2 linked regions of the Homo sapiens genome follow. The protein of the gene in region 1 purifies or fractionates together with the protein of each later gene. This does not show direct contact. Each region holds a gene or a part of one and is shown on either strand. Other genes may lie near its edges. The genes, in order: RFWD3 and MBNL1.

Region 1 (4,024 bases):
TACAGATTATTTTAGTTTTCTTCCTTGTTTTTACTCATTTGGTCCAACCAATGCTCACTTGTAGCGTTTTTAAATAATGGAAGATGTGTACAGAGAGGAATTTTGTTGAAAAGGCAAAATCTATACGTGTGGCTGTAATGGGTGATTATATTTAAAAACAATTCACTGATTACAATAAGGAATTAGTATACTCTCCAGCCTCATTAGAAAAAGTGAAGAGTTTCAAAATGCCGATACAGACTAATAAAACGAACAGCCTTTTACCCAATTTTATCAAATCTTAATGTTTTGCCATATTGCTTTGAGCCTTTTTGAAAATAAATAGGCTGGGTGTAGTGGCTCATGCCTGTAATCCCAGCACTTTGGAAGGCCGAGGCAGGAGGATTGCTTGAGACCAGGAGTTTGAGAGCAGCATGGGCAACATTGTGAGACCTTGTTTCTAATAAAAATGAAAAAAATTATCCGTGTGTAGTGGTACACACCTGTAGTCTCAGCTACTCAGGAGAGAGGATTTCTTGAGCCCAGGAGGTTGTGGCTGCAGTGAGCTATGGTCATGCCACTGCACTCTAGCCTGGGTGACAGAGTAAGAACCTGTCTCAAAAAAATAAAGATAAATCTGTTGACCAGGTCAAGAAGGAAAAAAAGGAAAGAAAATTTTAAAGAAGAAGAAGTTAATTATAGATTCAGTAGAAGGGCCAGGCACAGTGGCTCACACCTGAAATCCTAGCACTCTGGGAGGCTGAGGCAGGCAGATCGCCTGAGCTCAGGAGTTTGAGACCAGCCTGAGCAGCATGGCAAAACCCCATCTTTACTAAAAATACAAAAAATTATCCGGATGTGGTGGTGCGTGCCTGTAATGCCAGCAACTCGGGAGGCTGAGGCACGAGAATCGCTTGAACCTGGGAGGCGGAGGTTACTGTAAGCTGAGATTGCGCCACTGCACTCCAGCCTGGGCAACAGAGCAAGACTCTGTGTCAAATTTAAAAAGGTACACTAGAAGTCTTCCTGTGAACTAAGTTCTTAATTCCATAGAGAACTACTTTCATGAATTAGGTGTTCAGCATTCCCAAGAGTTATTATGTATTTGATTAGCTATATATGTATTTGTAAATTATACATAGTATGATATAGAAAGTTTTGTTTTGGTTTTTGGTTTCTTTGGTTTTTTTTTTTTTTTTTTTTTTTTTTGGAGACGGAGTTTTGCTCTTGTTGCCCAGGCTGGATTGCAATGGTGCAATCTTGGCTCACTACAACTTCCCGCCTCCCAGGTTCAAGCAATTCTCCTGCCTCAGTCTCCCAAGTAGCCGGGATTACAGGCGCCTTTCACCATGCCCAGCTAATTTTTTTTGTATTTTTAGTAGAGACAGGGTTTCACCGTGTTGGCCAGGCTGGTCTGGAACTCCTGACCTCGTGATCAGCCTGCCTTGGACTCCCAAAGTGCTGAGATTACAGGCGTGAGGCACTGCACCCGGCCAGAAAGTTTTTATACTGTATGCAAATGTTATGTTAGATTATAACTTTTTCTTCTGTAGCTTGCTTTTTTGCTTAATTTTATGCTTTGGGAGTATATCCTAGTTGATACATGGGACTCTAGTTTTTTTCATTTCAATTTCTTGATAATATTCTAGTTCTCTAGTCAAAATTAATCTGTTTAGGCCAGGCGTGGTGGCTCACACCTATAATCCCAGCACTTTGAGGGGCTGAGGTGGGCGGATCATCTGAGGTCAGGAGTTGGAGACCAGCCTGGCCAACATGGTGAAACCCCATTTCTACTAAAAATACAAAAATTAGCCGGGCATGGTGGCACGCACCTGTAGTCCCAGCTACTCGGGAGACTGAGGCAGGAGGATAGCTTGAACCCAGGGGGCAGAGGTTGTGGTGAGCCGAGGTCGCACCATTGCACTCCTGCTTGGGCAACAATGGCGAAACTCTGTCTTCAAAAAAAAAAAAAATTATCTGTTTGTGTTTTACATTGGTAGACATTTAGGTTGTCTCCACTTGTTAATATTAGCCATGCTGCAGAGAGGTCTAGCAATGGAATTGCTTTATTATAGGGCACATTTAATTTCAGCTTTACCTAAATATTGTCAAATTACTTTTCTAACTTAAACTTTTCTTGTTTAAAAAAAAAGGAGAGATTTCTCATTTTTTCATACCTTTGTGAATTTTATTTATTTTGAGACAGAGTCTCGCTCTGTCGCCCAGGCTGGAGTGCAGTGGCGTGATCTCAGCTCACTACAACCTCCACCTCCCGGGTTTAAGTGATTCTCCTGCCTCAGCCTTACGAGTAGCTGAGACTACAGGCACCCGCCACCACGCCTGGCTAATTTTTTGTATTTTTAGTAGAGACGGGGTTTCACCATCTTGGCCAGGATGGTCTTGAACTCCTGACCTCGTGATCCACTCACCTCGGCCTCCCAGAGTGCTGGGATTACAGGCATGAGCCACTGCGCCTGGCCAAAAAATTTTTTTTAAAGACAGGGTCTTGCTCTATCACAAAGGCCAGAGTGCAGTGGCGCCATCAGATTCCTAGGCTCAAGCAGTCCTCCAACCTCAGCATCCTGAGTAGCTGGGAGTACAGGCGCATGCCACCACACCTGACTTATAATTTACTAAATAGTATATTTTTCTGTACAAATTTTCATTGCTACTTCTATCCTTAATTAAGTTTCCGGGCGGGCGCATTGGCTCACGCCTGTAATCCCAGCACTTTGGGAGGCTGAGGTGGGCGGATCACAAGGTCGGAAGTTCGAGACCAGCCTGACCAACATGATGAAACCGTGTCTCTACTAAGAATACAAAAATTAGCTGGGCGTGGTGGCACACACCTGTAATCCCAGCTACTCAGGATGCTGAGTCAGAAGAATCGCTTGAACTCGGGAGGAGGCGGAGGTTGCAGTGAGCCAAGATCACGCCACTGCACTCCAACCTGGGCAACAGAGCAAGACTGTTTCAAAAAAAAAAAAAAAAATTAAGTTTCCATGTATGAATGGGCTACAGTAGTCCCCCCTTAGCCACAAGGAATACATTTCAAGAGCCCCCAGTGAATGCCTGAAACCGTAGTATGTTTTTTCTTATACATACAAACCTAAAGGATAATTTATAAATTAGGAACAGTAAGAGATTAACAATAATAAATAATAAAATAGAGCAATTATACCAGTATACTATAGTAAGTTATGTGAGTGTGGTCTCCATCTCTCTCTCAACATATCTCGATATTTGTAGGTTGTGGTTGATCACAGATATCAGAAACCATGGAAAATGAAACTAGATAAGGAGACACTGTACTCTTTTGTTCCACAGTCTTTTTGTTAATTCTTTCTCACATATTCCAAGCTATAATTTATTGTAGCTTTAATATATGTTCCCCCATTTTGTTCTGCAAAAGTATTTTTTTGCTATTTTTGGCATTGTTCTTCATATTAATTTTTTAAAATTAATTTGTTAAGTTCCATGAAAAACACCTTTGGGATCTTGATTGAAATTGCATTAAAAATTATTATAGGGTAACTTGAGAAGTACCATCTTTGTGATAGTCTTTTCAGTCATGAACATTATGTAATATCCTTCCATTTGTTCACTGTTTTCTTGTGTCTTTCACAAGTGTATTTTGCTTCATAAAGATCCTGCCTAGCCTTTTACTTTACAGTCACGTGCTGCATAATGACCTTTGGGTCAATGACAGATTGCATATACGATGGTGGCCCCATAAGATTATAATGGAGCTGAAAATTCTGTTGCGTAAGTGATGTTGTAATCATTGAAATGGCTTAGCGCACTGGGTGTAGTAGCTCACACCTGTAATCCCAGCACTTTGGGAGGCTGAGGCAGGTGGATCACTTGAGGCCAGGAGTTTGAGACCAGCCTGGGCAACATGGTGAAACCCTGTCTCTACTAAAAATACAAAAATTAGCTGGGTGTGTTGGCAGGTGCCGGTCATCTCAGCTACTTGGGAGGCTGAGGCAAGAAATCTCTTGAACCCGGGGGGCGGAGGTAGCCGTGAGCCTGGATCACGCCACTG
Region 2 (4,300 bases), on another chromosome or scaffold:
TGGTTGATGGGATTTTATTTTGGGCCAATCACTTCGTGAACCTATTTCACTTCTTTCCTCCACTCTTTTGACTCTCATATCTACTACCCACCCTAATGCCTTTGCATACAGAATTTTAAAAACCCAATCACCTATTCTTTTCAGCTTCTCCTAACCAAGACCTGAGATGTTCTCTAATCCGCACATCTATCACCAAGCAGAAAGCCAGAAGGTGCAGCAAGATTATTTATTCTCTGTTTCCATATAGATCTATCAAATACAGGCCTAATGTATGGCAACAGTGACAAATGCAAGGGCATTTTTTTCTTATAATGAAGATAAGGCATTTTATATAATAAAGTAACACACCCTTCCTCAATGAGAAATACAATTTTCAATGAGAAATATAATTTTACTCTTTTTTTTTCCCCCAGGAGAAATTTTGGGTTAGTCTGTTCTTGTTCTGGAACAAAACCCAGTGTTTCATTTCATAGGAATTCTGTGCCCAAAGGAAGAACAGAATGTTGGAATCAAAATTTAATGAATTCAACTTGGAGTCTAACTTTGCCTCAAATGTGGAAATGTAAACACAAGCAATAATATCTCAAACCATATAACACTTCAGTTTCTCTTTGGCATGACTGCGCAGAGTACCACACTTGATGTGTATCTACACACAAATTTGTTCACAGTTACATAAGGAAAAAAATTAAACTAGGCATATGTGAGGTTTTTCTGAGTCTCTTAGTAATAATGAAATCTGATTATTATGTCTTAAGTGACACTATAATTATAGATGAACAGGTTTTCTGTTGCTGACCCAACCTGTTCCTTAAAACACAAAAGGCAACTTTTGTAGTCTTCAGCAAGGAAACCCCCCATTAAACAAATAAGACTAAAAAAGCTATGCCTACATTTTCAAAGAAGACCTAACAATATAATAATAATAATAAAGTAACTCCCATGCAAATACACAAAACAGATAAAAACTAGAACATTAGGTTTTCTAAAGAAGTTTAGCCTTAGTTGTCACCAACTTTAAGAAAGCAAGATACAAGTGACAGCGATGTGCATTCTCAGGCTACAAAATAACTTATTCAGTGCCTCTATCTATAACTACATCTAAGACATTCTAAGTATTGAACTGCACATTCCTGGGATAAATTTTACAGTCGTTGAACTTTCATTTTCTCTCTGGGTGATAATATTTTATCTCAACAGCAAGGAGAAACACCAACACACTTAGGAATCCACACAGAGAGATAACTGTGGAGTGGCTCTCTTGTGCTGGTATAGAATACTTAGGTACTAAACACCCTCTGTGTATAAACAGACACTGTGTTCAAACCCAGGAGGAAGGGACATAGTGTCCACCGGTGTAGTATTTCAAAGCACGCTGCAGAGGGCTCGAAAGTCTAAAAGCATTAATTATGACTTCTCTCCTAGCGTATTAATTTAAGAAACTCCTCAGAGTATATGGCAGAGTTTGCCATCCATCTGCTATGACTTGTGCCTGTGCTGGTGGGCACACAAAGTGAAGTCAGCGGCAACAACCTTTCCGGCAGCTTCTTAACTTTAATCCTGGGGAGACATACTCCACGGAAATACACCCCAGAATCCCAACAGCCGCATACTCTCCCGGCCCCAGAGAGCCTTAAGAATACAATATTACTCTGGCAGCAACACCCCTGTAGTTGTAAAGTGCTGTGCGAGGGGAAGGCATAAGCGCCACCATATACCTGCTCGTGTTACAGGCTCTGGAATCAAAGTATTCTCACATGACACATTACTACCAATAACAGATTCCGGCTCCGTTTAAAAAAAAAAAAAAAAGTTGGGGGGTGGCTACATATTTGTCCTGCTTTTGTCTAAAAACCAGAACCCAAGTACTAACTACTTTTCATTCTTTTCAACCTTTCATGAAAGCAATTCAACCAACTGCGGCTCCACCCAAAGAGCTTCTATACTTACTTTTCTTACAGTTTTTGAGTGACGCACTACAAAACGATGAAAAAAAAAAGAAGAAGAAGAAAAGGAGGAGGCAGCCCTCTCCTACAGGGCGTCTTCCGCCCTGTAAACTTGGCAAAAGGCAAACTGGCCTGAAATACAGCACTCTCCATATAAGGCAGCCCAGCTAAACATGTCATGCGTAATTTATGGGTAGCAAGCAGAGAATTAACCTTTGCGTGCACATATTTGGCCCAGATGAAAACCGGGCGGGATGGCAGCCCCGGGGCCAGGGATGCGGGAGCCGCCGGGAAGACCCGCGCGCCGCTCGACTCAGAGGGACTCACACCTTCCCCCGACAAAGGTCATTAAGTTGTGAGTACACTTGCACGCACCTGTTTCTCTTCTCGCCCCCCTGTTTCTCCCTGGGTCCCGCTGGGCTGCCAAGCCGTGCGCGGGCTGTGCCGTGACAGCGTCCGCAGAGCCCGCGGCAGGGAAGGGCGCAGGAGCGGCTGCGGCTCACCCTCCCGCCTTCCCCCGGGCAGGAGGTGCTGAGGGACGCGAAACCAACTACCGCGAGCGGCCCGCCCCTGCCCGGGAGAACCGCGGCCGGCGAGCACCTCCTCGCACTTCCTCCTTCAGCCACGGGCAGACCCGCCGGAGTCCGAACAATGAAGCGGCGCGGGGAAACTGTGAAAATGGAAACTTACCTCTCACATTTTTTTTTCAGAGGCGGCCCCACTGTCGACCAAGTGCCCAAGGCATTGTGGGAGTCATGATTCCAAGATGCCCGCGACGGAAAATGGAACTTGTCAGCTCCTTGTCATGGGAGCATTGTGGGCGCCACAACTCATTCAGCTGCAGTGAAAAGACTGTTGCATGTCGCTGTGCAGCCTCTTATCGCCGAGGTCTGGCTTCCGCTGCTGCTGCGCGGCCCCTCCCCCGCCCGCCCAGCCCCACCAGGAAGCCCAGGGCGGACTCGTCGAGCTCCTAATGCACGCGGCGGCGAGAAAAACGCTCTTCAACTTTCCGCCGGCGCCCTCCCGCGCTTCCCCGGGCCACAGGGTCGCCTGTCAACCGGACAGAGCCCGCAAGAGCGGGTCATGGGCGGTCGCCCAGCGGCGCCGAGAGCAGGAGGAAGCCGGAGCCCGCGCGGGCGCCGTGGATCCCCTCGGCCTCCCGTTGGTATCTTCCATCTCATGCGTTCAGCATTGTAACCTCGCGGCGGGCGTGCAGACCGGACGCCCTCCCGCTTCTTCTACCGACTGCTAGGCACACCAGTGGGTTCATTTTGAAAGAGGCCCTTGCACCGGGCTTTGCAAGGAAGCCGGCAAGGTTAGATTGAAGGTTAGAAGCCAATTAGACTAGAATCCTGCGATCTGGTGAGACTGCCGCCTTAAAATGCACCAAACAGTTTTTGAACCTGGAGGGCTAACAGGCGGGAAAAACATCTGCAAGACTGCCACCGTGTATTTTTCTCAAGTAACAGGCTATCCACAGTTTTGGAATTCCTTAGTGAAACTGTCACACAGGCACAAACACATGTCAGCTTTCCTTCTAGTTTGTAAATAATATTTGTAATTTACAGGCCACTGTATTCCCAACTTTGCACCATGTGATTTAGAGAAAGCAAAGCTCCCTCTTTAAAAATAATATGTTACTTCTGAAATACCGGGATATTCCACGGCAAGTAAGCCATATTGTCGCCAGAGCAAATAAACCGCAGCCCCATATCATAATTCACTGGGTGCTATAAGATGTAACTTGGCTTTGCTTTGAATGGAAAGAATCCTGAACGTCTGTGATGTGATGAAGTTTTGGAGACTGGGGGCAGGATTTCCTTTGAATGTAAGGAATTCGGATAACTTGTTCAAGGATGATTCTAGTGAAAAACGTTTGTCCCATGTTTGTTGGGACAAAAATGCTGGATATGGTACAACATTCTTCCTGCAGGTTCGGTTTTGTTGAAGAGAGTGAGGCCAGCTCGAGGTGAAGGAAAAACATCAGAAAGGTGCTAAAGTGCAGAAATATCTTCCAGAGGCACTAATAGCCGACTTTAGTTCTTGACCTTTAGCTAGATCCACAAAGCACTGAGTTAAAATTGTACACTGATCCCTTCCAGAACAAATTAATTAATTAAATGGTGCCTCTTCCCAGCGTTAATCGTTTAAAAGGACTCAAGTACCCACACAGTTTAAGCAAACTAAAAGAACACTGACACTTTCTCAGAGAACAGGGATGGGAACTTTCTATCTGCCCATTAGTATCTACCCCAAGCTACGAAGACTTCCATTCCTCTTATTAAGCATTCAGCAACTACATTTAGTGCCTACTATGCCAGTGATGCAAGAATGGATAAGACAGTCCCTACACT

What was found.
Region 2: the proteins of RFWD3 (region 1) and MBNL1 purify together in Homo sapiens (affinity purification with mass spectrometry, with the first as the bait; one large-scale study listed by BioGRID). This does not show direct contact.

What each region holds. Positions count from the first base shown.
Region 1 is NC_000016.10:74,639,093-74,643,116, reverse strand, and holds part of RFWD3 (E3 ubiquitin-protein ligase RFWD3), read left to right. Parts: intron 1-4,024. UniProt on the Homo sapiens protein: E3 ubiquitin-protein ligase required for the repair of DNA interstrand cross-links (ICL) in response to DNA damage. Plays a key role in RPA-mediated DNA damage signaling and repair.
Region 2 is NC_000003.12:152,267,429-152,271,728, reverse strand, and holds the start of MBNL1 (muscleblind-like protein 1), read right to left. Parts: upstream 2,801-4,300; 5' UTR 2,637-2,800; exon of another isoform or gene 1,951-2,636; intron 1-1,950. UniProt on the Homo sapiens protein: Mediates pre-mRNA alternative splicing regulation. Acts either as activator or repressor of splicing on specific pre-mRNA targets. Inhibits cardiac troponin-T (TNNT2) pre-mRNA exon inclusion but induces insulin receptor (IR) pre-mRNA exon inclusion in muscle.